Regions from separate parts of the Homo sapiens genome. Here all the other regions are reported to be linked to region 4. Evidence: microRNA targets listed by miRTarBase, many of them from high-throughput screens and not tested one by one. Region 4 holds a microRNA gene; each other region holds the end of a gene's coding sequence.

Evidence for each region. The annotated mature microRNA hsa-miR-3163 reads UAUAAAAUGAGGGCAGUAAGAC and lies in region 4 at 2,917-2,938, shown strand. An mRNA with a match to its seed (bases 2 to 7 or 8) in the 3' UTR can be bound and repressed. Matches are read on the target gene's strand: a 7mer-m8 pairs with bases 2 to 8, a 7mer-A1 pairs with bases 2 to 7 and ends in A, and an 8mer does both.
Region 1: the mRNA of MKX is a reported target of hsa-miR-3163. Seed matches in the 3' UTR shown: 7mer-m8 at 2,140-2,146, 7mer-m8 at 2,469-2,475, 7mer-m8 at 3,842-3,848 and 8mer at 3,983-3,990.
Region 2: miRTarBase lists SKP2 as a target of hsa-miR-3163. Seed matches in the 3' UTR shown: 8mer at 1,676-1,683, 7mer-A1 at 2,215-2,221, 7mer-A1 at 3,241-3,247 and 7mer-A1 at 3,275-3,281.
Region 3: the mRNA of HSBP1 is a reported target of hsa-miR-3163. Seed matches in the 3' UTR shown: 7mer-A1 at 2,373-2,379 and 7mer-A1 at 257-263.
Region 5: the mRNA of HMGN4 is a reported target of hsa-miR-3163. Seed matches in the 3' UTR shown: 7mer-A1 at 662-668 and 8mer at 1,419-1,426.
Region 6: miRTarBase lists ARHGAP29 as a target of hsa-miR-3163. Seed matches in the 3' UTR shown: 8mer at 2,439-2,446, 8mer at 2,722-2,729, 8mer at 2,767-2,774, 7mer-m8 at 2,885-2,891, 7mer-m8 at 3,366-3,372, 7mer-A1 at 3,382-3,388 and 1 more.

What each region holds. Positions count from the first base shown.
Region 1 is chr10:27,671,817-27,677,168 of GRCh38, reverse strand. It overlaps MKX (mohawk homeobox), which reads left to right. Exons shown (of 7, transcript NM_173576.3): 6 at 1,615-1,648; 7 at 1,754-4,295. The coding sequence ends at 1,940. Among named protein-coding and RNA genes, the nearest start is that of MKX-AS1, 70 kb to the left of the region's middle.
Region 2 is chr5:36,180,745-36,186,096 of GRCh38, forward strand. SKP2 (S-phase kinase associated protein 2) reads left to right here. Exons shown (of 10, transcript NM_005983.4): 10 at 1,074-3,575. The coding sequence ends at 1,287. Among named protein-coding and RNA genes, the nearest start is that of SKP2, 31 kb to the left of the region's middle.
Region 3 is chr16:83,808,974-83,813,890 of GRCh38, reverse strand. HSBP1 (heat shock factor binding protein 1) reads right to left here. Exons shown (of 4, transcript NM_001537.4): 3 at 4,466-4,586; 4 at 1-2,470. The coding sequence ends at 4,468. Among named protein-coding and RNA genes, the nearest start is that of HSBP1, 3.5 kb to the right of the region's middle. RefSeq lists enhancers at 1-451, 452-963.
Region 4 is chr11:66,932,062-66,937,413 of GRCh38, reverse strand. It overlaps MIR3163 (microRNA 3163), which reads left to right and starts at 2,908; the gene lies at 2,908-2,980. The region is part of intron 3 of PC (pyruvate carboxylase); the gene reads left to right.
Region 5 is chr6:26,544,889-26,547,888 of GRCh38, forward strand. It overlaps HMGN4 (high mobility group nucleosomal binding domain 4), which reads left to right. Exons shown (of 2, transcript NM_006353.3): 2 at 239-2,045. The coding sequence starts at 319. The coding sequence ends at 591. Among named protein-coding and RNA genes, the nearest start is that of TRA-CGC1-1, 7.1 kb to the right of the region's middle.
Region 6 is chr1:94,170,487-94,175,838 of GRCh38, reverse strand. ARHGAP29 (Rho GTPase activating protein 29) reads left to right here. Exons shown (of 23, transcript NM_004815.4): 23 at 1,090-5,352. The coding sequence ends at 1,970. Among named protein-coding and RNA genes, the nearest start is that of ABCA4, 52 kb to the right of the region's middle.

The sequences.
Region 1 (5,352 bases), not on the chromosome of region 4:
GATTATTGTTGTGGATGATGATGACGATGATGATGAAGAGGGGCTTACCCACTATCTGGTTTTGGAGTCTCAACCCCACTCCTTTGCTCGGATGCCATGCCAGTAGCCTCTCTCCTACCACCCTACATCTTTCCCTTCAGTAGGTAAATTTTTGTGTTACTCATACCAGATTCTTTTAGCCTAAGGAGCTTGAGAACCCATTTTCGTGGGTTCTTTATATTTATGTGGTGTTGGGAGACATTCGTGTTCTGAGTGAAGCAGCAAATCTAAACCAAAGATGTGAGTGCAGAAGCAAAAGCTAGCATCCTAACTTTCATTTCCTGCAGCAGCAGGAGGAGGCGTTGTTTTGGAAATTGAGGACCAATGCCTGCTTCTTCTAATAAATATGCCAGGAAATCCTGTATTGCTATCACCATTGGGTCCGTTACTCATTTGCTAACTAGCAGAGGGAACTATTTGCCCATCCTTTGTCTGAAATAAATGTTTGATAACTGGCCAGGCACGGTGGCTCACGCCTGTAATCCCAGCACTTTAGGAGGCTGAGGCAGGCTGATCACGAGGTCAGGAGTTCGAGATCAGCCTGATCAACATGGTGAAACCCTGTCTCTACTAAAAATACAAAAATTAGCCGGGCTTGGTGGCGGGTGCCTGTAATCCCAGCTACTTAGGAGCCTGAGGCAGAAGAATTGCTTGAACCTGGGAGGTGGAGGTTGCAGTGAGCCGAGATCACAGCACTGCACTCCAGCCTGGGCAACAGAGCAAGCCTCCATCTCAAAAAAAAAAAAAAAGAAAAAGAAAAAAGAAAATTTGATAACCATGAAATTATAGAATCATTGAGCCAGAAGCACCCCCAAGATTTTCTAGAACCCCCCCCTTTTTTATTTTAATTTTCTTAGAGACAGGGTCTTGCTCTGTTGCCCAGGCTGGAGTGCAGTGGCACAATCACTGCTTACTGCACCTTCACCCCCCTGGGCTCAAGCAATCCTCCCACCTCAGCCTCCTGAGTAACTGGGAATATAGGTGAACACCCACCATACCCAGCTATTTTTATTTTTATTTTTAGTAGAGATGAGGTCTCACTATGTAGCGCAGGCTGGTCTCGAATTCCTAGGCTCAAGCAATCCCCCGCCTTGGCCTCCCAAAGTGCTGGGATTACAGATATGAGCCACTGTGCCCAGCCAAAGCTCCCTGATTTTATAGTTAGAGAACTGAATCCCTGACATTGTGGGAGGTCATAATCTGCCCCCAGGTTACACTGCAAGTGGGTAGTAGGGCAAGGCCAGAACCTGGCCCCAGGTACAGTCAGCACTCTTTTCCTTATGCTGTTTGTCTCCTGATCCAAAAGGCCCAATTTCTCAGAGTAAATAACTTCAGATTTTTGTGTATCTATGAGAGCTACCTTTTATTCTTTACTACCCACTGTCATCTTACTTCTGCCCCTTTGCAATTTTTTTTGCATCTTAATATAAACTGCTTTATCTTTATTAAAAGCGAACTAATTTTCAACCATATTTCCTGAAGAACTTTTACTTCTGGTCATTAGTGATGAAACTCCTGAGATGAGAAAAGAAAGGAAAAACATAAAAATAATTGAATTTTTGCTTTTCTTTACAGACACTCTGGAAAACGGATCCAATAAGGGTGAAAGGTGAGCAAAATGTTCCCATTGGCCGTTCCTGCTTTTCAGCGATGGCATTTTCAATGCAAACTGCAGTGAGTTTGATCGTTTACTTTCTGTTTTGCTTAACTCCAGCGCAGCTAACAGAAAAGGACCAAGCAAGGATGACACGTATTGGAAGGAGATCAACGCAGCTATGGCCTTAACAAATCTTGCACAGGGAAAGGACAAACTGCAGGGAACTACCAGCTGCATCATCCAGAAGTCGTCCCATATAGCAGAAGTAAAGACTGTCAAAGTGCCGCTGGTGCAGCAGTTTTAAGAGCTTGTTGCTTTTCAGATCCAATGGATGTTCTTTCCGGTGTTTTCATCAACCCTCATCCTAAGAGCCGAAGCAGGGATGAAAATGACTCTCTCCCAAACCTCTTCTTATTTTTAATTATCCCAAATATATCATTTAGTTGCTTCTATAAAAGACATATAAATTATAAAAAACTCATTTTAATCAAAAATATTAACTTATTTTATGTTACTCAAACTATGCATAAAACATCTGCATTACCATTACAGTAAGTGCCTTGCTTCCCGACAATAAGCTCCAACGTGGGCATAGTTGAACAAGCTATGCCTCAAAATGCCAACGCCATATGCTTATTAGCCTGTGTGCATCATTCCAGACGGGCCTAATCATTCCAGGACTGAAACCAGAATCGCTGAAAGCCCTTGAAATACATTCAATAATTCATATGTTAAAACTTGGATATCTGTTCAGCCCAAATGAAATCTTCCTTTTAAAAAACGTCTACATTATTGAAAATTGTTCAATGTGCTTTTCAGAGTGACGGTGAGAATTTTATGCATGTATCTTGCCTGCATATTTGATATGTTACAAACTTCCAAAATTCAAGGTGCAGCGATCCACAGAACGTTGTACATTTAAGAAGTGATTCCTTCAAGCTAATTTAAAATTTCATTGAACACATGGTGACCAGGAAAACTTTTTTTCAAGCACTGTTGGAAAGCACCACAAAGCCCTTTAGAATTAATCTGGATTTGTTTCTCAAGTTCTGCTGAAGTTTAAAAAAAAACTTTATTATACAAATAACTCAAAATTTTCCTGTGTAAAACTAAACCTGTAGTTTTAAAACATAATCCTGTTTGCATTAGAGCTCACTGTCTTTTTGTGATGGAAACTGTGTTCGTATGGAATGACTAAAAATCTTTTATTTGGTTTGTTTCAAATTACAATTGCTGATGGACAATTTGTATTGCAGCGAGAACAACAGAATGAAAGAAATGTATCTCTGTGCGGCTATACATATACATACATAAAATTGATTTTTAAATTTAAAACATATGGAAAACAAAACATTGAACAGTTTGAATTTTGCCAAGTTGGACATTAAAGTAAAAATGAAGTGAAATCATGCATTGAAAGAAAACATTTTGTTTCTAAATTAGTCTACCATTGAGTGAGAATAATCAATATCAAGAAAGAAGACTATCTTTCTCAACTAAACAATAATATTCCAATCAGCTTGGGAAGACCTGAAACTTGAATAAGCAGTGGAAATGCCAAATATAACAGAGGGTATGTGCTACAGAGAAGTAAAAAGGGTTTGACTTTTTATGATGGGATTTTTTTTTTCTGGGTATGTAATCTATTTTTTTTTTAAACTGGAAAGCATTTTTGTCAGTGTGAATGAGGGTCAATAGTGCAGCCAGTGGTGACATTTTTCTTTATTTTGCAAAATGCTTTTAAAACCAAAGGCTGCTCTAGTTGATGGACAGTATCAGTCTTGATCTAAATTGTAGGACACTTTTTCATGTAACATAACATTTGGGGATTGGGTTTATTTAGTGTAATGAAGATAATTTGATATAAAAATATTTTGTGTATATATATATATTTTTACTTTGTTTTCTAAATTGCTGTTTGCAGTAACAGTAAGCGCAAAGCAAAATATATAAGTTATGACTGTATGATCAGATGAAGTATGAGTTCTTTTGGTTTGCATCCTTAAATAGTTAGAGATCTCTGATAAAAACTTTGGAATCTTTGCAAAACAATACAAAAATGCCAAAATGTGAGCATGTCAATGAAAACTAAAGACAAATACTTCACTCTTTTTCATACTATTATAAGTTATTCTGGTATTAAATATGTTAATAAAAGTGTTTTTGTTTTGACATATTTCAGTTAAATGAATGAATGCTGGTTGTATTTTATTTGAATGAGTCATGATTCATGTTTGCCATCTTTTTAAAAAAATCAGCAAATTTCTTCTATGTTATAAATTATAGATGACAAGGCAATATAGGACAACTATTCACATGATTTTTTTTAATACCAAAGGTTGGAAGATTTTATAATTAACATGTCAAGAAGACTTTATAGTAAGCACATCCTTGGTAATATCTCCAATTGCAATGACTTTTTAATTTATTTTTTCTTTTGCTGCTTTAACATTTTCTGGATATTAAAATCCCCCCAGTCCTTTAAAAGAATCTTGAACAATGCTGAGCCGGCAGCTGAAAATCTAACTCATAATTTATGTTGTAGAGAAATAGAATTACCTCTATTCTTTGTTTTGCCATATGTAATCATTTTAATAAAATTAATAACTGCCAGGAGTTCTTGACAGATTTAAAATAAAAGTTAATTTCTAGACCTCGATGATCGTATGGATTTTGTTTTCCTTTGAGAGCTGACCAGGTAGATGAAGCAGTAGAACAGACGGGCCCATTATATTCAGCAATTCTCCTTAGACTGTTAAGGGATATGATATGGGAGTGCTGCATTTGTATTAGGTTTGAATTTCATCACCTTAGGCCACCAATCCAGCTTTCAAAGACTGAGGAAAAGGGAGTGTGATGCCGACTATTAAAATACCTAACTTTAAAATGAACATTTTCAGGTAATACCTTCTTTCCCTCACTAATACAATTAGCATTATTTGTGGTGTGCTCTGCACTGGAGAGAAAACCTTGGCTTTGAAGCTAGACAGAACTACCTTTGAATCTCAGCTCTGTCCCTTACTACTTAGTCATTCTTATCTAGTTTCTTCATCTGCAAAGTGGGAGTAAGGAGCTATACCTTGTAGGGTTTGCACTAAGATTGAGATAAAATGCAATACATAAAGTGCCTACCTCAGTGTCTGTCAGATAATAGGTGCTTGGTAACTGGAACATATTATTGCATAGTTACAATTCCTCTATTCAGGCTTTATGCACAAGAAAGTAGAAATATTTAAAATAAATGGAACATAAGACATGGGTAGTTTAATGGACAGCTGTAGAGAGGGAGAGATGCCTGACAAGAAAAGCTGCTGTGCAATGGTGAAAATTGGTATCAGAGTTAGAAAGGCCTTCAAGGAAGATCATTTTAGCATCATCACTTAAAACTTCCAGGCAAAAAGCATAAAGCGTTGCGAAGCCAAGGCAGAACAGACATTCCAACAGAAAACACGATATGTGCTGTCACTTCCTTCTTTGGGATAAACAAGAATTGCTTTCCCTCTGTTTGTCCTGCTTGATACTGTTCAAGATGGCTAAGAAAAACTCAAGCTGCTGCCTGTGTTCTCCGTCTGCTCCAAGTAGCAATGTTTAACAAACAGTGGCAACAGCCATAGCCTGCTTTTAAACTTATCCAGCTCAGTGGTGTCACAGCATGCAAATAAACACAGAGAAGAAGAGCAAGCCACCCATGCTGTCCTGCCAGGGATGGCATAGGA
Region 2 (5,352 bases), not on the chromosome of region 4:
GAAGGAAGAAAGACAGTTATAAGGAAAGTTTGGGGCTTTTTAAAAATAATTATTGACAATGTGAAAATATAAAGGATGTTTCTGACTTTAGGTAATTGATGTGCTCATTGATCTGTAGTAGGATTTTGTTGAAATTCCAAAATAAATGTTCCCTTTCCTGAGACTTTGTACTGTATGTCCCAACCTTGAGCAAACAGAGATGAGAGAGATGAATTTCTAGGCACATAGATCTGAGTTAAGAAGGAAAAAATCATTACCAACACCAAACAGTATTTACTTTGGAAAAACAGAATTTGTGAAACAGAATTTGAGAAACAGAATTTGTGAAACAGAATTTCACTGTTAACAGGGTTGAATTTCATCTAATGTGAAATACCTAAAGGGACTGGCTTATCTATGCAGAAAAAAAATGGTAATACGTAGGGAGGTAAGATGGCTATTACCTCCTATAAAGGGTGTGATTTTTCACCCATTGTCTCTACCTGTACCCAACTGTATAACCCTATCTAAAATATCTTAGGGAAGTCAGTGGTAGTTTTCATCACACATAATGGACTTGTTGACTATGAACCATTATTAAGAAGTTCATCAGTCCTGACAGCATCTCCCTTTAAGAGATGAGCCTAGTTCAAATAAAGGTCAAGTTCATATCCTTAATTTGCATGTAACCTGTGGTGGTTCCAACTGGTGCCGCAGTAAAACATTTGCTTTTACCATCACTCACTTGCTAGTTTCTTCTCATAACACAGTAACCCCATTCAGATCACTGTATAAATCACAACTGGAGAAAGGAAGCAAATATGGTTGGATTCTTAAATAAATCTGAGTTTCTAAGGTTATTAGGAACCTCATTCAATAAAATGCAGCAGTGTGTTTCCTAATGACATGTTGCTCAAGCTATATGGTCTGTGCTTTCCAGTTTAATTTGCTATTTTCTCAAATCATTTATTGTAAATTACACTTTCAGACTGCATTTTGTAGATGACACAAATTGTAAAATTTGGGTCATATAACTCTAGTCAAACAGTTTCCATAGATACTGCTATTCTGAAAGTCTTTTTCTTCCTTTCCAGTGAACTTGGAGAAATTCCCACACTAAAAACACTACAAGTTTTTGGAATCGTGCCAGATGGTACCCTTCAACTGTTAAAGGAAGCCCTTCCTCATCTACAGATTAATTGCTCCCATTTCACCACCATTGCCAGGCCAACTATTGGCAACAAAAAGAACCAGGAGATATGGGGCATCAAATGCCGACTGACACTGCAAAAGCCCAGTTGTCTATGAAGTATTTATTGCAGGATGGTGTCTCTTCTTTAGAACAGGGAAAATAGGCAGGAAGCCCAATTGCTGGAGTACTTAGCTAGTTTTATTCTTGGTTTTCCCTTTGCCTTCATTCTGCAAGTATACTAGGGAGCCATTTGAGAGGGAAAACTATGAAATCTTGCTTTTTGAAATGATTCTAAAAGCTTCTATCACTGCTTTGCTCTTAAGAGCCAAAGTTGTAGGCCTTTTGAAATTTTAGGAGAGTGAGCCTATAATTTCAAGATACCTTAAAGAGCAAAATTTGAGCCACCTCTTCCAAGTGCCCTTCTTACTAAGTCTATTCAGAATCAAGCTTAAAAATTACCACCAGCAAACAATCTTCATAGCCCATATAACTTTTATCTATTTAATTTTATAGTATTGCTTTATAAGACAGCTTAGAAGAACAATAAGCTATTTGTATTATGAGCTGAACAAAAAGAGAATCATAGGATAGTAGCGTCTGAGGCCATCTTTTCTAGGAATAGGAAAGAGAAAAATGTATTTGAATTTTGCCTTTAGATTTGAAATTAGGTTAATAGAAATAAGTAACCCCATGTAATTCACCTTAAAACTTAACAAAAGACCAAACATTACAAAACCCAGAGATATAGAATCAATATAGGATTTGAAGGCCCAGCAGACAGTTTTCTATGACAGGTTAATCTGAAGTATCCTGTAATGTTCATTAAGTTACTGTGTTTCCAGAATCTAAATTAGATGAGAAATATAATTGTGGTTTTCTAACTTGATAATCAAATTATGTTAACATGGGTCCTTTAGCTTTTAAAATGACTTGCTTTGTTTTAGAAAGGTGGTATTAATCCACTCTCTATTCTTGAAAATTTGGATGGGAGAATTCTGAAGTTGCCTGCTGTTTTCCTTTAGCGCTGAGGTTCTTAAGGTTACTTTTATATTACTCTGGAATCAAGTATTTTAAATTGTATTTTTTTTTTAAATGATCTCTCAGCAATAATTGTTTGAAACTATCCATATATAAGGTTATCAGACCTACAGTTCCCTAAGAGGAACTGCATGTTCTCTTCAATCAGAAATATACAGTAGAAGCAGGTATATCTTCCATGCAGTTTCAGTAGTAAGCACTACTTATACCTACATAAGAGTTAAAATCCAGATGTGGGACCTTTTGATACCATCAGTGATATATATTTTTTTAAACTGGTACAGAGAAGTGAAAAGATTAAATTCTACTTCTATTTTTTTTTTTTTTTTTTGAGACGGAGTCTCGCTCTGTCACCAAGGCCGGAGTGCAGTGGTGCGATCTCGGCTCACTGCAAGCTCCGCCTCCCAGGTTCACGTCATTCTCCTGCCTCAGCCTCCCGACTAGCTGGGACTACAGGCGCCCACCACCACGCCCGGCTAATTTTTTTGTATTTTTAGTAGAGACGGGGTTTCACCATGTTAGCCAGGATGGTCTCAATCTCCTGACCTCATGATCCGCCCGTCTTGGCCTCCCAAAGTGCTGGGATTACAGGCATGAGCAACTGCGCCCAGCCAAATTCTACTTCTTAAAAATCACAAAAACTAGTTTAAATTGATGACTTGTTCGTATGTTCAAAATGTAACAACAAAAAAAGCTAACACCAGTCATTTATATTAACTTTTTTTTTTTAAATCAAAAATTGTTAATGTTAGAAACATACTATGAAGTGCCTTTATCTGCTTAGACCTAAGGAAGATTTTAAAGTTGGGTTGCACAGGAAATGATGATGCTTCAATTTCTTAATAGTTAAAAAGTGCTAAATACTACTTGAAATTATTGTTTACAGATTAGTGACAAGAGCTGGGGTTAGGATCCGGTTGGACTCTGACATCGGATGCCCTCAAACATACAGAACTTCCAAACTCAAGTCCAGCCATAAGCTATTTTGCCAACATGTCAGAGTAATCTGTATTTTTGTATGTGATTTCTACTTTTATAGACTTGTTTTAAAACAATAAAACACATTTTTATAAAAATGAGTGCTTAAACTAAGTTGTATTCCTTTTTTCTTTCTCTTTTTTTAAGTGCTGTGGTTAAAATTTGAAAGCATTTAGTGTGGTATGCCATTTGGCTTAGATACCTCTAAATAAGACTCTTCAAAACAGAGCCCTGAGATGGTCCTTTTTGACCCATCTACTTCATATGCTTGTCACATTAAAAAAAAAAGTTTATAATGCCTTTATAAAAGGGGCTAATACAGTCTTGTTATCTTTTTTTTTAAATTATACTTTAAGTTCTAGGGTACATGTGCACAACGTGCAGGTTTGTTACATATGTATACATGTGCCATGTTGGTGTGCTGCACCCATTAACTTGTCATTTACATTAGGTATATCTCCTAATGCTATCCCTCCCCTCTGCCCCCACCCCATGACACGTCCTGGTGTGTGATGTTCCCCTTCCTGTGTCCAGGTGTTCTCGTTGTTCAATTCCCACCTATGAGTGAGAACATGTGGTGTTTGGTTTTTTTGTCCTTACGGTAGTTTGCTGAGAATGATGGTTTCCAGCTTCATCCATGTCCCTACAAAGGACATGAACTCATCATTTTTTATGGCTGCATAGTGTTCCATGGTGTATATGTGCCACATTTTCTTGATCCAGTCTATCATTGATGGACATTTGGGTTGGTTCCAAGTCTTTGCTATTGTGAATAGTGTTGCAATAAACATACGTTTGCATGTGTCTTTATAGCAACATGATTTATACTCCTTTGGGTATATACCCAGTAATGGGATGGCTGGGTCAAATGGTATTTCTAGTTCTAGATCCTTGAGGAATCACCACACTGTCTTCCACAATGGTTGTACCAGTTTACAGTCCCACCAACAGTATAAAAGTGATCCTATATCTCCACATCCTCTCCAGTATCTGTTGTTTCCTGACTTTTTAATGATCGCCATTCTAACTGGTGTGAGATGGTATCTCATTGTGGTTTTGATTTGCATTTCTCTGATGGCCAGTGATGATGACCATTTTTTCATGTGTCTCTTGGCTGCATAAATGTCTTCTTTTCAGAAGTGTCTGTTCATATCCTTTGCCCACTTTTTGATGGGGTGGTTTTTTTCTTGTAAATTTGTTTGAGTTCTTTGTAGATTCTGGATATTAGCCGTTTGTCAGATGAGTAGATTGCAAAAATTTTCTCCCATAGTGTAGGTTGCCTGTTCACTCTGATGGTAGTTTCTTTTGCTGTGCAGAAGCTCTTTAGTTTAATAAGATCCCATTTGTCAATTTTAGCTTTTGTTGTCATTGCTTTTGGTGTTTTAGACATGAAGTCCTTGCCCATGCCTATGTCCTGAATGGTATTGCCTAGGTTTTCTTCTAGGGTTTTTATGGTTTTAGGTCTAAGTCTTTAATCCATCTTGAATTAATATTTGTATAAGGTGTAAGGAAGGGATCCAGTTTCAGCTTTCTACATATGGCTAGCCAGTTTTCCCAGCACCATTTATTAAATAGGGAATCATTTCCCCATTTCTTATTTTTGTCAGGTTTGTCAAAGATCAGATGGTTGTACATGTGTGGTATTATTTCTGAGGGCTCCGTTCTGTTCCATTGATCTATGTCTCTGTTTTGGTACCAGTACCATGCTGTTTTGGTTACTGTAGCCTTGTAGGATAGTTTGAAGTCAGGTAGCATGATGCCTCCAGCTTTGTTCTTTTTGCTTAGGATTGTCTTGGCAATACGGGCTCTTTTTTGGTTCCATATGAACTTTAAAGTAGTTTTTTGCAATTCTGTGAAAAAAGTCATTGGTAGCTTGATGGGGATGGCATTAAATCTATAAATTACCTTAGGCAGTATGGCCATTTTCACGATATTGATTCTTCCTATCCATGAGCATGGAATGTTCTCCCATTTGTTTGTGTCCTCTTTTATTTTGTTGAGCAGTGGTTTGTAACTCTCCTTGAAGAGGTCCTTCCCATCCCTTGTAAGTTGGATTCCTAGGTATTTTATTCTCTTTGAAGCAATTGTGAATGGGAGTTCACTCATGATTTGGCTCTCTGTTTATCTGTTATTGGTGTATAAGAATGCTCGTGATTTTTGCACAT
Region 3 (4,917 bases), not on the chromosome of region 4:
AACAAAGAAAAAATTGATATGAAAATAAGATTGAAATATTTTAAAATCCTGTGGCTCAAAGGAAAGCAGGATGAACTAGGGGCCAAATGAAGAAGCTGTGGGGCCTTGGGGTTTGAGACAGGGCACTTAATTAAATGTAACGCTGTTTTCCTTGGTGCGAGGGCCCCCATACTCATCTGTATTGTTCAGCCCTCAAGAGAATCTTCACTGGCTGGTAAACGAACAAGAATAGCTGGAGAAGGAATACTTCATATAGTATAAAAAAGACCCTTGGACAGGCATGGTGGCTCCAGCCTGTAATCCCAGCACTTTGGGAGGCTGAGACAGGACTGCTTGAGCCTAGGAGTTCTAGACCAGCCTGGGCAACACAGCAAGACCCAGGTGCGGTGGCACGAACCTGTAATATTAGCTACTTGGGAGGCTGAGGCAGGAGGACTGCCTGAGCCCAGGAGCTTCAGGCTCCAAGTGAGCTATGACTGTGCCACTGCACTCCAGCCTGGGCAACAGAGCGAGACCTCGAAAACTAGCAGGTGAGCAGGTTAAAGCTGAGTTCTCTGCTCTACTTTCAGAGTCTTTAATATGCTAATTTCTTCATGAGGTTCACAGAATGTCGTCTAAACCCAAGTGACCATAACCCCTTCCTTCCTGCAGCATCTCCAGGGGCAAGAGTTCTGGGAACACACCTGAGACAAGTCTCCTGCAATGCCAGTCTTGGCAAGCCCTCCTCCCGCTCCTCAGCTTCCCCTTCCAGCAGGCAACCTCCCCCAACACCCCCTCTCCTGCTTTGCCTTGGGCTACTTGTACTTAATCCGTCCAGAGGTTTTAGTTGATACTCTAATGTGATTTCTGCATTTCCATCTGAAAACCAAACAGATTTTTGACACAAAGGAAGCTTCATAGCAGGATTTCAGGCACCTTTATTCATGGCAGATATTTTTGGTCAGGGCAGCCTGCCTTTGAAATCGTTCCATTACTTGAGGAGGTCGACTCCTGCCTAAGTCACAACTCTCCTACAACCGCAACCGGCCATATCATTTCCATTTGCCACTTCCGAGGCTTGAGAACATCACCAGGGACGCAGGTTTCGGATGGTCTGGTCAATGCTGCAGTGTGTGTGGGGCATTCGGGGGCTCCAGCCTGCATCACAACCTACTGGCCTGATCAAAGGAGGTTCTGTAGTTGGGTAACCAGAGTGGTGAATTCATTTTATCACAGAAGGATCTCACTCCTTTATGTTCCCCATGTAATTTGTATACAGCACAAATTATTTCTTACTTTGATAGATTTGCAATATAAACACCAAGACTGGTGAGATGAGAAACTTAAAAAAATCATGTTTTTCAAATTTTCAAGTTTTTGTGTAAAAGCACTTTGTGGTGACAATCATATGGATCACCTTCCAGGTCATCAGTATTGGCCTCTAGGTTTAGCACTCCTGGCACTGCATTTTTGAGTGGCCAGAGATAAAGGTATTATCCCTGTCTTCTATAATCAATGATAACATTGACACTCTGCAAGAATTTAGATAAGAAACAGTTTAAGTAAAATAGTGTTTTTTAAAAACTTGAGTCTACTACAAGTCGTTGATCATATTCTAGCCAAGCAACTGGCATGGACTTAATATGGTCTCTTTTCCTTCTCTCTTTCTTTTCAAGTCACTAGCTCAAAGGAAAGACTGATTGAGTTTTAAAATCCTGCCAGATTTTTTATGGTAACCATTGTAGATGAACCACGTAGGTAGGGTCCTACTGAAGTATTAGAATCTCATGCAAAACTCTAACAAACGCCTCATTACAGAAGGCTATTCTGTTATTTTCTGTACTGTAAAAGTTCTGACACAAGACAGTGGCAGTGGTTACTTTTCATCGACTTTAGCATGTGATCTCAGGGACTCAGACATACGTCTAAGTTCTATTCTGAGTTTTGGCAACAGAGCAGTGACAGATATTTCTGAATGAACAATTTTTAGGTGTTTTCAGCCATTTGAAAAGTATTGCCAACACACTATTTGGTGTTAGCTCAACAGTCACGTTGTGCCAAGAATTAAAGAACTCTAAAGTCTACAAACATCTTACTTCACCAAGACTAACTATAATTGAAGGGTTTACTATTTGTTTAATAAAAAATCACACATCAACTTTTATCCAAACAGCAACTACTACAAAAGGAATGACAAGAAAAAAAATGACTTCACAGAAATACACTAAAAAATCTGACAATGTTATGCAAGAACCGCCAAAGTTTTAGTGTTTAATAATGAATAGCACAACTGACCAAGGTCCAAGATGTGAAGATACCATGTTCAAGAAACTGGGGGGAAATCACTCTACAAACTAACTATATACTAGGTGATAAGAATGCATACTTTATAATATAAAACCTGTCTACACATAGTAGTTAGCTGCAAAAAGCCATTCGATCTTCTCTTGGCTTGGAAAAATGCCAGATTCCAGTATAAATTATTAGCAACCTGTTGAAGAAGGAAAAATCATCAACATGTTTTTCATTATATGAGCACAAGTAAAAATGACATATAGACCTATCAACTACAAATCCCTTTCCACTCTCCTACTGAGTTAAACTTATTTTCTTCTGGCAATATTTTAGCAATAGATTTAACTGGAAATATCTTTAAAAGTTTCAGAGTCAGTTTCCTACTCCCACTCTTTTCTTTGAATGACCCCCATCACTAGCCAGTCTACCATCCTGAAATTCTTGTGGTAAGATAATCAGTCAGTTGATGGCAGTTTTGATTGCCACATAATATAAAAAGAGACCCACAGAAGCATCTGAGACTGGTAGGACATTTTTCCAAATTATCTCTGGATAAGAATAACGATGACATAACCCATAGAAAGCAGTTATGTGATTTACTCACACAGTGAATGAACCCCACCTACTGTGAAGATAAAAGCAAATTTTAGAGTCTGTCTTCAACATCCCAAATCTGTATTTCACAGTGACTTAAAATGTGGTCCACAGCAAGCCCAGAAAATAGGAAATTAGGCATGTTTTACTGTACATTCTGCTTAGTACTCTACGAATCTAAAAATACTCAGGAACCATTTTATTTTATTTTTTTGAGACAGAGTCTTGCTCTGTCTCCCAGGCTGGAGTGCAGTGGCATCATCACGACTCACTGCAAACTCTGCCTCCTGTCTCAGTCTGCCAAGTAGCTGGGATTACAGGCGTGCACCACCACACCCAGCTAATTTTTGTACAGACAGGGTTTCACCATGTTGGCCAGGTTGGTCTCGAGCTCCTCACATCAACTGATCTGCCCTCTGCCTGCCTTTGCCTCCCAAAGTGCTGGGATTACAGGCATGAGTCACCACGCACCAGTACCTTTTTTTTTTTTTTTTTTTTTTTGAGACAGAGTCTCACTCTGTCGCCCAGGCTGGAGTGCAGTGGCGTGACCTCGACTGCAACCTCCGCCTCCCTCAGCAACATTCATTTTTATAGAGAATTAAAATGTTATAAATGAAACAAGAGAAAAGTGAGTCTAAAACTTATTTTTCACACATACAGAGGAAAAGGATCACCATGCACTCTGCTGAGTGATTCTGTACATTTACCTATCTTGCTGTGTAGGTACTTTGAATTACTAGGCTTTCCTCTGACATCTGAAACTATTCAGAGGAAATTTAAATGAACTCCAGGGTAAAAGCTTAATGTGGCCACAATCTAGTTCACCTATGTCAAGTTACCAAGAAAGTCTCCAGAATTTAAGCCATTTAAGAAGGTGGTAATGTGGGTGACTTATCAGTTATTTCCATAAAAAAAAAAAAAAGCAATGGAAAATCTTCCAGTGACAGGCTTTATAGGCCAACAAAAAGACACCTTAATTATTAGCTGGAATGATAAAAACTCAGTGGTTATCTAATGTTAGCCAGTGGTCTTCACTAATAGTGACAGAAGTCTAATTAATAAAAACTGGGAAAATAAATTCGGTGTAAAGAATGAGTTTGGCATGAAAAATTTCAAAACATCAAGTCCACAGCAGGTAAACAATACAGTGATGCTTGCTGGGATCATGGCTGGGAACTGATCTACAGAATGTCTGACTACATACAAATTATACTTACAGGTTCTCTCTATTCTTTTAAGACAAAATAAAAAAAAAGACCGGGCACGGCGGCTCACACCTGTAATCCCAGCACTTTGAGAGGCTGAGGCGGGCAAATCACTCAAGGTCAGAATTCGAGACCAGCATGACCAACATGGAGAAACCCCGTCTCTACTAAAAATACAAAATTGGCTGGGTGTGGTGGCACAAGCCTGTAATCCCAGCTACTCGGGAGGCTGAGGCAGGACAATCGTTTGAACCCAGGAGGGCAAAGGTTGCAGGGAGCCGAGATCGTGCCATTGCACTCCAGCCTGGGCAACAAGAGCAAAACTCCGTGTCAAAAAAAAAAAAAAAAAAAAAAAGAAAAGAAAAGAAAAAAAAAATTGCCCCCTTCCTCACCTTCAACTCTTTTGCGTGGCAGGTATCTTGTTTTCACTTTCCAGTTCTTCCACCCCAGCCTGTGTCATGAGGTCCGCGATATTCTTTTCCAGATCATCAATGCGACTACTCATATCATCAAGTGCTGAAGTTAAAGACAACGCGTGCCAACATCTCATTGAGCCTTTTTCCTCCCGTCCCTGCAGACTACAGCCTTAAACACAACGACTTTAGGGAAACTGGTCTTCCAATTTTCTTTCGACACTGTTACACGCTGGTGGGTAAGAGTACAGGACTGTGGGGCATGGCTACCCCGCATCGGATTCCAGCCCTGACCCTTACTAGTGATGGAACCCCTAAACCTCAATTTATTCATTTGCTAAAGATGATAACACTACAACCCACTCATAAGGTCATGCTGAGCATCAAAAGACACACACAAAAGCGCTTAGTTCACAGTGCATGGTCCACCA
Region 4 (5,352 bases):
ATGACAAAGAATCTTGAAAGCAGCAAGAGATGAGCAACTTATCTTGTTCAAAGGATCTTTGATCAGATTAACAGCTCATTTCTCCTCAGAAATCATGGGAGCCAGGAGATAGTGGGATGAACACTGTTGAAGGCAAAACCTTCAACTGTAATTATTGGACTTTTGAGTCTTAGATGGTCCTGACCTCTTTGTCTTCAGGGACAGTTTTTCAATTTAATCCCTAATAACAATTAGTCAAGCTTCCTTGACCTGTAGGAAGGCCTGTCTTTAGGCCGGGCACAGTGGCTTACACCTGTAATCCCAGCACTTTGGGAGGCCCAGACGGGTGGATCATTTGAGGTCAGAAGTTCGAGACCAGCCTGACCAACATGGCGAAACCCCCATCTCTACCAAAAATACAAAAATTAGCCAGGCGTGGTGGTGCATACCTGTAGTCCCAGCTACTTAGGGGGCTGAGGCACGAGAATCGTTGCTTGAACTTGGGAGGCGGAGGTTGCAGTGAGCCAAGATCGCGCCACTGCATTCCAGCCTGGGAGCCTGGGTGACAGAGCAAGACTCCATCTTAAAAAAAAAAGAAGACCTATCTTTTATAGAGTTCCCTTCCCCAAGTTTTTCTACAAATACCCAGGGATGCTTATGTGTTCCACCAAGTTTGGAACATAGTTAGGGAGTGAAAAACATAGGTTAAATGAATGTCATCTGTCTGGCTTGGTTATTTCCTTGGCCAGCTGTTCTCTTCTGTATGTTGCCTAGTTCTCCCTGCCTCAGGGCTGTTGCTTCACCCTTCATACCATATTGCCTTAAATACACAAACGACCTGTCAGGCATTTCACAACATTTTACTGAATGCTTGGAGATAGCAGAATGGAATTACAATACAGAAAAAGATGTTTTGCTCACAAAGGGGAATTTACCCTTTACCTCAAGAAAAATAGAGCAATTGCCAATAACAATATTGGTGGCCTCTCCCCTGCCCATTAACCATCAAGACGTCAGCAAATACTGGGGTCTAATCTCAACTAGTGTTACTCCAGGACACCATATGGAGCTGACTGCTGATGTTCTGTTCTTGATAATATCCCTTATGTGTGTGTAGCACTTTATAGTTTTTTTATTTCATTTTTTTCTTTTTTTCTCTCCCCCCCCACCTTTTTTTTGTGTGTGTGTGTGACAGGGTCTTGCTCTGTCACGAGGCTGGAGTACAGTGGCACCATCCAAGCTCACTGTAGCCTCCACCTCCTGGGCTCAAGCAATGCTCCCACCTCAGCCTCCCAAGTAGCTGAGACTACAGGCATGTGCCACCACACCCAGCTGATTTTTTTTTTTTTTTTTTTTGAGACAGGGTCTCACTCTGTCACTCATGCTGGAGTGCAGTGGTGCAATCACAGCTCACTGCAGCCTCAACTTCCAAGGCTCAAATGATCCTCCCACCTGAGCCTCCTGAGTAGCTGGGACTACAGGCATGTGCCACCATGCCTGGCTAGTTTTTGTATTTTTTGTAAAGACTGTGTTGCCCAGGCTGGTCTCAAACTTCTGAGCTCAAGCGATCCTCCTGCCTCGGCCTCCTGAAGTGCTGGGATTACAGGCATGAGCTACAGCACTTGGCTAGTTTTATTTTATCAACCAGTTTTCCCTGGAACTGGTTATGGTTGTGGTTTTGCTGCTTATGGATGACAGACCCGAGGTTCAGAGAGGTTCAGTGTCTCTCTCAGCTTCACTAGGAAGAGTTATAGCCAAGCTCTGACAGCAGCAAACCAGATTCTGGCCTGAGGTTCTCAGAATATGCTGCCGTTCCACAGGATGTTGCAATATGGTGTGGCAGGGTGTTACAGTGCACAGGGCTGAAAAGACCAACCTGAGACCCTCCCCTTTCCTTCTGAAGTTATCACTTCATGGACGTTTGCAGCTTTTATCATAAGAGCCATTTGTTGTCGCATGGCTTGTGGCCAACTGGGAGTCTACCTCCATCTAAGGCAGGGCTCTTCTCCCTGCCATGTTGCCCAAGGCTGTTTCAGTAAGACTGTAAGGTTTTCTTCAGCCCTCCTGGCTTTTGACTGCCCCATTCCAACTGGTTGCAAAATAGCTATTTGTGTTTTTGCTGACCTGAGCCATCTTTCTGTCCATTTATACTTCTGATATTCTTACGTGGCAATCAGTATCTAGCAGAATGAATGCCCCATTTTCTAATCCTGCGTTTTCTCAGTTGACTGAGTGGCTTAAGGAGGACAAGTTATTACTGGGCAGTACTCCAAGAAATGGTTCTTTCCTTCAGCATTTACTGTGCATCTGTGCTATGCACAGCTCCTTACTGGATGCTGTGAGGCCACAGGAGGATCTGACAAGGTGGCCTTGCCCTGAGTTGTTTATCCGTGGTTGGGAGAGAGGGAATGCACGTGCTGGACAAAATACATGCTTGCATAGTGACTGGCTAGCGTGGAAGAGTAGTAATGACCTCATTGATCCTGCTTCTGTGCCAGGTGAGATGCTAAATGCATAAACATACACAGGGGGCTGGGCGCGGTTGTTCACACCTGTAATCCCAGCACTTTGGGAGGCCGAGGCGGGTGGATCACCTGAGGTCAAGAGTTCGAGACCAGCCTGACCAACATGGTGAAACCTCATCTCTACTAAAATACAAAAAATTAGCTGGGTGTGGTGGGAGGCTGAGGTAGGAAAATCACTTGAACCCAGGAGGTAGAGGTTGCAGTGAGCCAAGATCGTGCCATTGCACCCCAGCCTGGGCAACAGAGTGAGACTGTATCTCAAAAACAAAAACAAAACACACATAGGGAATTACCGGGGAGTGGCATAGCAGAGTTGAGAGCATGGACCCTGGAGTCAGGCGGACAGGATGGAGTTCAGGCTTAGCCCTGATCAGCAAGTTCCTTAGCTTCTTCAAGCCTTGGTTTCCTCATCTATAAAATGAGGGCAGTAAGACCTTCCTTCCTTGTCTTACTACCCCCATTTTATAGATGAGGAAACCAACCAGTGGGGGCTGTTGGGTAGAGATCAAATGCAATAACTTTTGTACAAATGAAATAACACACGTTCATTCTGTACAAATGAAATAACACATAAACAAATGAAATCACACAGTCATGTGCCTGACACTTGGACACACCGTAATGGTGGCTCTGTTAATGGGACCAGTGATGAACAGTTAGAAGTGAACCCCTTGAGGGTAGAATATGTGAATCCGAGGCCCTGCAAGATGAGGGGACTCTCTCAGGTGGGTGGAGGAGCTGGTCCTCGCATGTGTGATATTTGAGTTCGTAGGAGGCGGGTGCCCCCGGACAGTGGCAATGGGAGTGAGGCCAGGTGATGAGACAGAGGGTGATGCCCCAGCCTCGCTGGCGTGGAGGAAGGCAGTGGGAAGCCGGCAAGGGTGGAGGTTGTGCCTGCATTGATCACTGTGGAATCCTCAGGGCCTAGCACTTGGGAAGCAATGTTGGAGTGTGCTGGTGGGGCGTAGTGAGCATTAGGGCTGGAAGTTCATTCTGTGAACCCCAGCTGCGTGTTGGGATTTGAGACAATAAGAAGCCCCTGAGATGCTTGAGCCAGGACTACCCAGAGGTGAATGGGATTTTTGGAAAACCTCTGGGCGGAGTGGGTGGCTGCCTGGGAATGGGGAGAGGCAGAGGTTGGGTGGGGACTAGCTCAGCAGGGAATGTAACTCAGACATTCCGGAATGATGCAAGTGGAGGTTAGGGAAGTGGTTGCAATGGGAAGGAGGTGGCAAATATAAAGTGTCACAGAAGAAAAGTTGTCATGGGGCCAAGTGGAGGGAGGGATTGGAGAGCTCTAAATTGCAGCTCAATCTTCATCTTGAAATGCAGGATGGAAAAAGCCACCCCATTTATTTAGCTAAAGGGAGCTGACTCCAAGACCTGAGGTCGGGGAAAAGTGGAGAGACAAATAGAAAAGAAATAGGGAATTGGGACAGGGCACCATCTTTCGGGATGGTGGGCTTTTAAGCCCAACTCAGCATTTCCTGAGAAAATTGAGATAGCTTGAGACCAGAGCAATAAGCGTTGAGACTTACCCGGAGAAAATGTTACCCAGAGAGGAGAAAGGGCTGGTAGGGCCTGAAGATTCTTGAGCTGATTTTCCCCAGTTCTTGCCTCTTAGTGCCTCCCATTTCTCCTCATCTGACGGTTTCTGGGTGAGACAGTTGCATCTCATCTGTGGTAGGCTGCCTACTGCTTGGTGAGCCTGGGCTGAAGGGCTGAGGCCTCTGGAAGAGCTGTCAGGAGAGAGACACCTTCAGGGTACTTGGAGCTTTCGCCTTGCTTCCAGGGCGGGATAGGTGGAAGCTGAAACTGCCTCCTAGCAAACAGATTTACACTGATCAAAACAAAGTATTTGTAGGTGTTAGAGTTAAGAGGTTGAGGTTTTCCGTTGGATTTTTTAGGTGCATGGTGGAAGAGGTATTTTAGACGAAGGATTCTCCTAGCAGACACAAAATATGAATTAAGAACACTTGTTTCTGTTTTTCTCCCAACTACTTCTTGATATTCATAGTTCCTGGTGCTGGGACTTTGGAATGGGTTTTGGTGTGCAGAAAAGACAGGGCATTTGCTGCCAACAGGGGACATAATTGAGACTAAATTCACAAGATAAGGGATGGTATGATTTACCTTCCAAGAAAAGATCTGTGTCTGGTCCTGTATCTGGCTTCTTTCTTTATTGCTTTTGCAGTTCTGAATCAGTTTTCTTTCCCCGATGGCTAGCTTCTCCAGCTGGAGAGAACACACAGTTTAAAGAGGCTTTCCCCCCAGGGCCAGATTAAGGATACTTCTGGGCTAAAGGGCAAATGCAGCCATTCCTAGCAGATTTATGGCCCCGAAAGGACATTTCGGCCACTGCATCTGCGAGATTTTTGTCCCACATCAGCTAGCCCAGCAGCGTAAGCCCAAGGGTTTAGTCATTGACAGAGTCCAACCAAGGGGTCTCTGTGGAACCCTGGGCTTGAATGGGCTGGAGTTCTACCCTCCCATTGAAATCATTTGAGATGGTAGAGTGCCTTCCATGCTGAAAACAGGTCTCATGTAACAGTTACTGATGGGGCCAAGGAAGCCCAGGTATGACCTAGGTAACTCCTCAGAGATGCTACTGTTGAACCTAATAGTCTTCTAGCAGGTTACCAAGCGGTAATCCAAAGAGTTAGTGTTTAACTTAAAAAAAAAGGTATTCAGTTTAGCTATGTAATACTTGCACCTTGTACAAACATTGAAATGTATGAGTCTCCTTTTTCCTCTCTCCCCAGTAACCCAGTCCCCTCCCAGGAGGCCACTTCCGGTTAAATTATCTTGTCTGTCCTCTTGGAGGTGGTCTGCCCTTTGAAATAGAAAC
Region 5 (3,000 bases), not on the chromosome of region 4:
TTCATTTTGTCCTTTCCTCATGGATCTATAGGAATGCTTTATGTATTCAGGATTCTAACATTTTGTCCATTATATATTTTACATATATCTTTGCCAAGCTGGTACTTATTGTTTTACTTTTATTATGCTATCTTTTTTGATATACACGAATTATTAACAATATAGTCAATTTGATTTTTAACGTTTACATTCGTCAGTCTTTCCCTTTATGGTTTACGCTTTTTGTGTCTTGTTAAAGACATCTTTCCAGGAACAGCGTGAGGAGGACAGAAGCACCCAACAGGACTGCTCAAGCCACCTGCGAACACTGCTGCTACCATGCCCAAGAGAAAGGCAAAAGGAGATGCTAAAGGTGATAAAGCAAAGGTGAAGGATGAGCCACAGAGGAGATCAGCTCGGTTGTCTGCTAAACCAGCTCCTCCAAAACCAGAGCCCAGGCCTAAAAAGGCCTCTGCAAAGAAGGGAGAGAAGCTTCCCAAAGGGAGAAAGGGGAAAGCAGATGCTGGAAAGGATGGGAACAACCCTGCAAAAAACCGAGATGCCTCTACACTCCAGTCCCAGAAAGCGGAAGGCACTGGGGATGCCAAGTGAAATGTACATTTTTGAGAGCTCTGTACTTATAGTGACTCTACTGTTTGAAATACTATTTTTTTAAATCAAGTTTTATAAAAGTGTAGAATTTTGGCTTTTTTAAGTTATGTTGTTAGCACACAGGACACTTCCTTGTTGTCTTTTGTGGAAAGGGCAAGTACCACTAATAGGGTGTATCTCAGAAACTGAATTGAAATAAGGGAAAATAGGATTTTCTGTCCTGGTTTTTGAAGATTGTTCTTGATTCCCTTGATTCCCAGGAGAGATTCTCTGACATTCACGTGTCAGCCACTTTGGCACGGAAGCCTTACAGTGTGGGGAACCAAAACTTCGTGTCTCCCCTTTCCCCGATGCCATCAGCATAGACTTGACTTCCTTAAACCGAGAGTTTTGATGTGGCCTTGGCAACCCTAAAATCAGCTGTGTTAGGTAACAAAACTCAGGCTTTCTGTTGATGACATCGAGATGGTGTCACTTAAAAGAGCCAAGATTCCTGTTTTCAGTTTGTGGATTCATCCTGCTGGTTTTACTTTAGTCCCTCCATGTCAAAGTGGGCCTGAGAAAAGCTCATACATGCCTCATGTGAAGTGTCCACCCTCTCTGAAAATCTTTCTTGTTCAAAACAGCAACGACATATCTTGTTAACTTTTACGGTGACTTTTGGAGGAGGGGAGTTTGGAAATTGTAAAATGTTATAGATTGTTGCCTATTTCCTGCTGAAAGTAAATGTTTTTAAAAAGTATCATATAAAGCTGAATACAAATTGGTTTGGGGGGAGATCCTTTCCTACCCAAAGTCATAAATATATTCTTTACTGCCTTGTGGAAATTTTATAGTTTTGCCTTTCACATTTGTCTTTAGTCTGTCCTGAACTGATTTTTGTGAAAATTATGAGTTAGAAATTCAACTTAACATTTTTCATATTCGAAGTGGTTGTCTCTGCACTATTTACTGAAAAGTTCATCCTTTCCCCAGTGATTTGTAACACTGCCTCTTTCATAAATTAAATTTTTGTGTATGTGTGTGGGTCTTTTGATGGTTTCTATTCTGACTGACATCAATTTGTCTAATCTTGTAGCAGTACAGTACAGTCCTGATTATTGCAACTTTAGGAAAAGGTCTGATAAAAACCAAGATGCCTCCACATTTTGTCATAATTGTAACCAATTTCACCTCTGTCTCCAGTATCACCACAAAATTGTTCTTCCTTGGAGTGTCTTGGCTATTCTTAGCCAACTGTTCCTCCATATTACTTCTAGAATTAGACCAACAATTTATAAATCAAACAAACCCAAGAGCATTGAAATTTTGATTGGATTTGTATTGAATTTATAGATTAATCTGGTAAACCATGTCATCTTTACAATGTTGTCTTCCAATACATGAATATGGTACAGCTCTTCATTTACTTAGGCCTTTGAAATATCTTTCAATAAAGTTTATAATTTTCTCCATAAAGGTCTTCTTGTTAATATTTCCTAGGGACTTTATGCTTTTTAACACTACTTCGTATGGTATATTTTTAGTTACCACATTTTCTGTTTTTAGCTAATGTTGATTTCGATTTTTGTATCCAGCAGCCTTGCTACCTCTCATTCTTGTATCTGCATATTCTTGTGGGTTTGTTTGTTTTTTTTACATAGACAACCATATATTCTGTGTATACAAACAATTTTGTTTCTTCTTAGTCCTTATTATACCTGTAATTTCTTTTTCAAATGGTCAGCGTAGTCTAGGTGTTGGTGTCTGCTTTTTTTTTTTTTTTTTTTTTTTCCCAGACAGAGTCTCACTCTGTCTTCCAGACTGGAGTGCAGTGGTGTGATCTTGGCTCACTGCAACTTCCACCTCCCGGGTTCAAACGATTCTTCTGCCTCAGCCTCCGAGTACCTGGGACTACAGGCGCGCGCCACCACACCCGGCCAATGTTTGTATTTTTAGTAGAGACGGAGTTTCACCATGTTGGCCATGCTGGTCTCGAACTCCTGACCTCAGGTGATCCACCCGCCTCAGCCTCTCAAAGTGCTGGGATTACAGTCGTGCGCCACCACGCCCGGCCGTGTCTCTGCATTTTTTTTTGAAATGGAGTCTCACTCTGTTACCCAGGCTAGAGTGCAGTGGCGCAATCTCTGCTCACTGCAACCTCCGCCCCCGATTCTCCTGCCTCAGCCTCCCGAGTAGCTGGTATTACAGGCACCTACCACCAGGCCCGGCTAATTTTATTATTATTATTATTTTGCATTTTTAGAAGAGACGGGGTTTTGCCATATTGGCCAGGCTGATCTCAACCTCCTGGCCTCAAGTGATCAGCCCGCCTCGGCCTCCCAAAGTGCTGGGATTACAGGCATCAGCCACCATGCCTGGTGCCATTAGAGTTTCGAGCAAAGAAATGGCACAATCTAAGGTGTTTTA
Region 6 (5,352 bases), not on the chromosome of region 4:
CAGCTACTCAGGAGGGTGAGGCAAGAGAATCACCTGAACCCAGGAGGCAGAGGTTGCAGTGAGCCAAGATAATGCCACTGCACTCCAGCCTGGGTGACAGAGTGAGACTCTGTCTCAAAAAACAAAAACAAAACAAAACAATAAAAGAGCCTTGGAACCCAGGGAAGAGAGGCCAGCAGTCCCAGGTGTGGAAGAAGTTCAGATGAGACGATGACCAAAAAGTGACTCTGGTGGGCACCTGTCTGCAAACCACTGCCTAAGAGATGTGGGTGAAGGACTGGGTGGCAGAGAAAGGATTGCATGCTGTGCTTGGGGCCGACTGTAGCTTAAAGTCAGGATGGCGTCAAGGCACAGAGTTGGTGGATGTGTTTCAGCAGTGAACAGAAAAGCAGGAGAATGGAGGGCTGGAACATTCCTGGAATTGGAATTTTTTAGGATAGATGCAGGAACTGAGGCTTCTAAGTGAGAAAACATGGACTGTGGGTTCGGACTATAGAAAGAAAATCCGGGAGCAGGTGGGGAAAATGGCACTTTTTAACTTAAAAGCATTCAGCCTTCATTTGACAGAATGGATTTTATGCTTTATTAGTTGATCAGATATGGAGAGCATCTAAGGCATCTAATATCATATGCTCTCACTGGGTTGAGTGTAACTGAAAAGCAGATTGAGTGAGTTGGCAAAATCCTTGGGATTCAGGGCACACTTACATCTGGTTGGTGTGTAAATTAGTGTCACTTTTCTGAGGTTAATTTTCCAATGTCTGCCTATTGAAATTGTGATAGTCTTTTGACCCAGAAAGTACTTGTTCATGCACAGCACTTAAAAAGAAGTTACTCAGCAAGTGTTTTTTTTGTGTTTTGTAGCTGTTCATGTTGATTTAAATGAGTAAAAAATTTGAACTTTTAAATTCAATATACACCTTTAATACTGTGCAAATGTTTAACTCCTCCACATAGGTAACTGAGAATATTATTTTGGAAAAAATATGTAAGACTCATATTGTCTTGATAGAGTGTTCATCTCTAACTCATTCAAACTCTCTTATTAACCATGTGCCACAAACTTAAATAGATTTCTTTCATTTTCAGACAAAGCACAGTTGCTTCTAGACCAAGAGGCTGAATCAGCATCCCAAAAGATAGAAGATGGTAAAACCCCTAAGCCACTTTCTCTGAAATCTGATAGGTCAACAAACAATGTGGAGAGGCATACTCCAAGGACCAAGATTAGACCTGTAAGTTTGCCTGTAGATAGACTACTTCTTGCAAGTCCTCCTAATGAGAGAAATGGCAGAAATATGGGAAATGTAAATTTAGACAAGTTTTGCAAGAATCCTGCCTTTGAAGGAGTTAATAGAAAAGACGCTGCTACTACTGTTTGTTCCAAATTTAATGGCTTTGACCAGCAAACTCTACAGAAAATTCAGGACAAACAGTATGAACAAAACAGCCTAACTGCCAAGACTACAATGATCATGCCCAGTGCACTCCAGGAAAAAGGAGTGACAACAAGCCTCCAGATTAGTGGGGACCATTCTATCAATGCCACTCAACCCAGTAAGCCATATGCAGAGCCAGTCAGGTCAGTGAGAGAGGCATCTGAGAGACGGTCTTCAGATTCCTACCCTCTCGCTCCTGTCAGAGCACCCAGAACACTGCAGCCTCAACATTGGACAACATTTTATAAACCACATGCTCCCATCATCAGTATCAGGGGGAATGAGGAGAAGCCAGCTTCACCCTCAGCAGCAGTGCCTCCTGGCACAGATCACGATCCCCACGGTCTCGTGGTGAAGTCAATGCCAGACCCAGACAAAGCATCAGCTTGTCCTGGGCAAGCAACTGGTCAACCTAAAGAAGACTCTGAGGAGCTTGGCTTGCCTGATGTGAATCCAATGTGTCAGAGACCAAGGCTAAAACGAATGCAACAGTTTGAAGACCTCGAAGGTGAAATTCCACAATTTGTGTAGGGATGTCAAATTTCAGGGTTTTTTTGTTGTTGTTGTGTTATTTTGTGGTATTGTGCTTGTTTTGTGAAAGAATGTTTTGACAGGGCCTCTTTTGTATAGGACTGCCAAATCATGGGTTTTGCCTTTTGTTGTTGTATTTATCCTCTGTTGGTAATACTGAATGGTAGAATGTTTTGATAGGGTCACATTTGTGCCTCACTGGAATTATCTTTAAATTCTGTATTTTTAAAGTTGTGAATAAGATAGGTGGATTCGTATTTTTTAAAGTTCAGTTGACTTTCCCCACCAAATGGTCCATTTGAATGCATCCCTAATATATGATATAGTCTCAACTAATAGGTGCAATTTGGGAAAATCAGGTTTATTTTTTGGAGTGGAACTGTTATAAGTGCTTATTTATAAAAGGAATGTTTCTGAATGCAAGTGCCTAAAAAGATCTTTGTTGGTATGCATATGTTTTGTCACACAATTTTATAGTGCATCTTTCACCATTTGTGCTTTTTTAAGATACGTATGTAAGCTCTTATTTTTCAATTGGCAATTCAGTTAATTTTTAAATGTTTACATAATGGCCAGAAGGCTTGCAAATCTGTATTTAATTGCATTTTAATTAATTGCCAGTTTTTACATGTGATAGTCAGTTGTACAAAGAAAATGCACTTAAACCTGTTTCTAAATTATATATTCAGTTATATTATATTTGGCTTTAGATGGTTTTAATACATTTGATAGTTTTTCACCCCTTGGCTTTATTTTATATAAACTTTTGTTTTTCAGCAGTTCTGAACTTTTTAGTATTTTATAAATGGTCCAAAAAATGCCTGTTTCAGAAGTTTTTGAATTCAGTGCATTTCCTCTTGATTTGTCTGGGTTAAAACCATTCCTTTTGTATGAAATGTTTTGACTTAGGAATCATTTTATGTACTTGTTCTACCTGGATTGTCAACAACTGAAAGTACATATTTCATCCAAATCAAGCTAAAATTTATTTAAGTTGATTCTGAGAGTACAGGTCAGTAAGCCTCATTATTTGGAATTTGAGAGAAGGTATAGGTGATCGGATCTGTTTCATTTATAAAAGGTCCAGTTTTTAGGACTAGTACATTCCTGTTATTTTCTGGGTTTTATCATTTTGCCTAAAATAGGATATAAAAGGGACAAAAAATAAGTAGACTGTTTTTATGTGTGAATTATATTTCTACTAAATGTTTTTGTATGACTGTGTTATACTTGATAATATATATATATATATATATCAACTTGTTAAATTATTTCATGTTCCCGTGGCTTCTTTTCAGTTGTTGCCTATTACAGTATGAGAGTTTAAGGTTATTAACCATTGGCTTAGAAGTCAACACCTAGGATCATACATCCGTTGACTACAATGTGGAATGAATTTTATGGAAACCTGTTTTATAGTTCTATGTGATGTAAAGGTCTAGGGAGCAATAACCAGCCCTTTTTTTTCTGAAGGCTTGTTTTTAGTCCTCATTGTACAAAATATAAAATAATCATATTGCTATGAATACCTAAAAAGAAAATTAGAGCCCATGTGTATTGAGCCTTCTCTGTGTGCCAGGAACTTTGCCAAGGTGCTACATAGATTATTTTATTTCAAGTTCACAGCAACCTATAATGGGTGGGTAAGCATGTTATTATTTCTGTGTTACAGATAAGGAAACTAAGGCTTAGTTAAATGACTTGCTTCAGTGTTCCACAGGTGTAACAGGTGGAGTCAAATCTCAAACATAGGGCTGTCAGATTTTGATGGTTAGTGCTCTTAATGACTGTGATTACTAAATAATATCTGGTAGTTTTTAACAATAGAAAATGCAACTTTAAAAAATTTTTATTGTGGTAAAATACACATAACATTTACCATTTTTAAGTATATTGTTTGAACCATTTTTAAGCATATAGTTCAGTGGCATTAAGTATATTCACATTGTTTTGCAACCATGAGCACCTATTCATCTCCAGAACATTATCATCATCCTATACTAAAACTTAGAAAATGTACTTTTAAACTTCTTCAGTTCTCTTTTAATATATGGAGCCCACCCAAAGGTTATATCATGTAATAAACTCATTTCTCTGTTTTCCCTCACAGCTTAAAAATGAGAATTTCACTTTTGGGTCCTTTCTGCCTTTAGGGCTCCCTGGCACTTTGTCCAGCGTAGAGCCTTAAGCCTCTAGATGCTTTCTAGTTTCCTGGGGCCCTGAGGCAAGTATCTCTTGAGAAGAGGTTGCTATTTCTAGAGGATCCACAGTGTGCACTGTGTTGTGCTATCTAATAGTGTGGTGGAAATCATTTATCCAGAAGTTGTTTTTTGCAACATGGAAAGATACGTGACCAAAAGGAAAGGGCAACAGCAGGAGCCCTGTTAGTGCTGCCAGAACACCAGGAAGCCTTGTGGGAGGCGTATTGTCCAAGATGATGCGTATTGTCCAAACGACTCAGAAGAAGTCATTTCTGAAGGGTTGATCATAACTTCCCTAGCCATGTTTTACCTACAGAGAACTTAGTTAGAATTTATGAGTACAGTATGTTAAATTACTTTTAGTGTACCTTAGGCAGTGTATTTGTTTTGATACAGAGACAAAGACTATATGATCCCTGAGACTTGTTGCCTAGTGAACTCACAAGCAGATAGAATTGTACCTCAGTTATTTGGGTGATTTAAAGATGGTACTATGGCTACACTATTCCCAGCTATCGTTGTGTTACAGTATTTATACAACTGGAAACATCTCTCTAAATGACAACCATTGTATATTGTTAAATAACTTATAGTCAGTGGAATTCTGTGGGTTTTTCTTTCCTACAGGCAGGAAATTATGGTGATGTGTTGATATGATTATATATGTAGACTATTCAGTTAACATCTAGGAGTTAGCAAATTTGCTACATTCACAATCAGTATGTAAGTCAGTTGTATTCCTAGATATCAGCAACTAACAGAAATGGAAGTTTTTAGAAAGATCTCTTCAATATCATTAAAAAATACAAAATACTCTACCTAAGAATAAGTCTAACAAAAGATGTACAAGATCTTGATGGAGAAAATGTTAGACCATGTCAGGAAGCATTTAAGGAGATCTTAAATAAATGTAGTACTCCATAATGTACACGAATTAGAAGACTCAGTCGTGTAAAGATGTTCATTTACATTTGTAGATTCAATGTAATCCCAACCAAAATATTTTTTGCATTATTACCTCTATCTACTGTGTGTTTCCTTAAGACAAGGGCATTCCTACGTAACCATAGTACAACCATCAAACTTAGGAGATTGACATTGACATCATGATATCTAATCCATAGACCACATTCAATCTGCTGATTTTGATTGCCTCAGTAATGTTCCTGTGTTTCAGCATC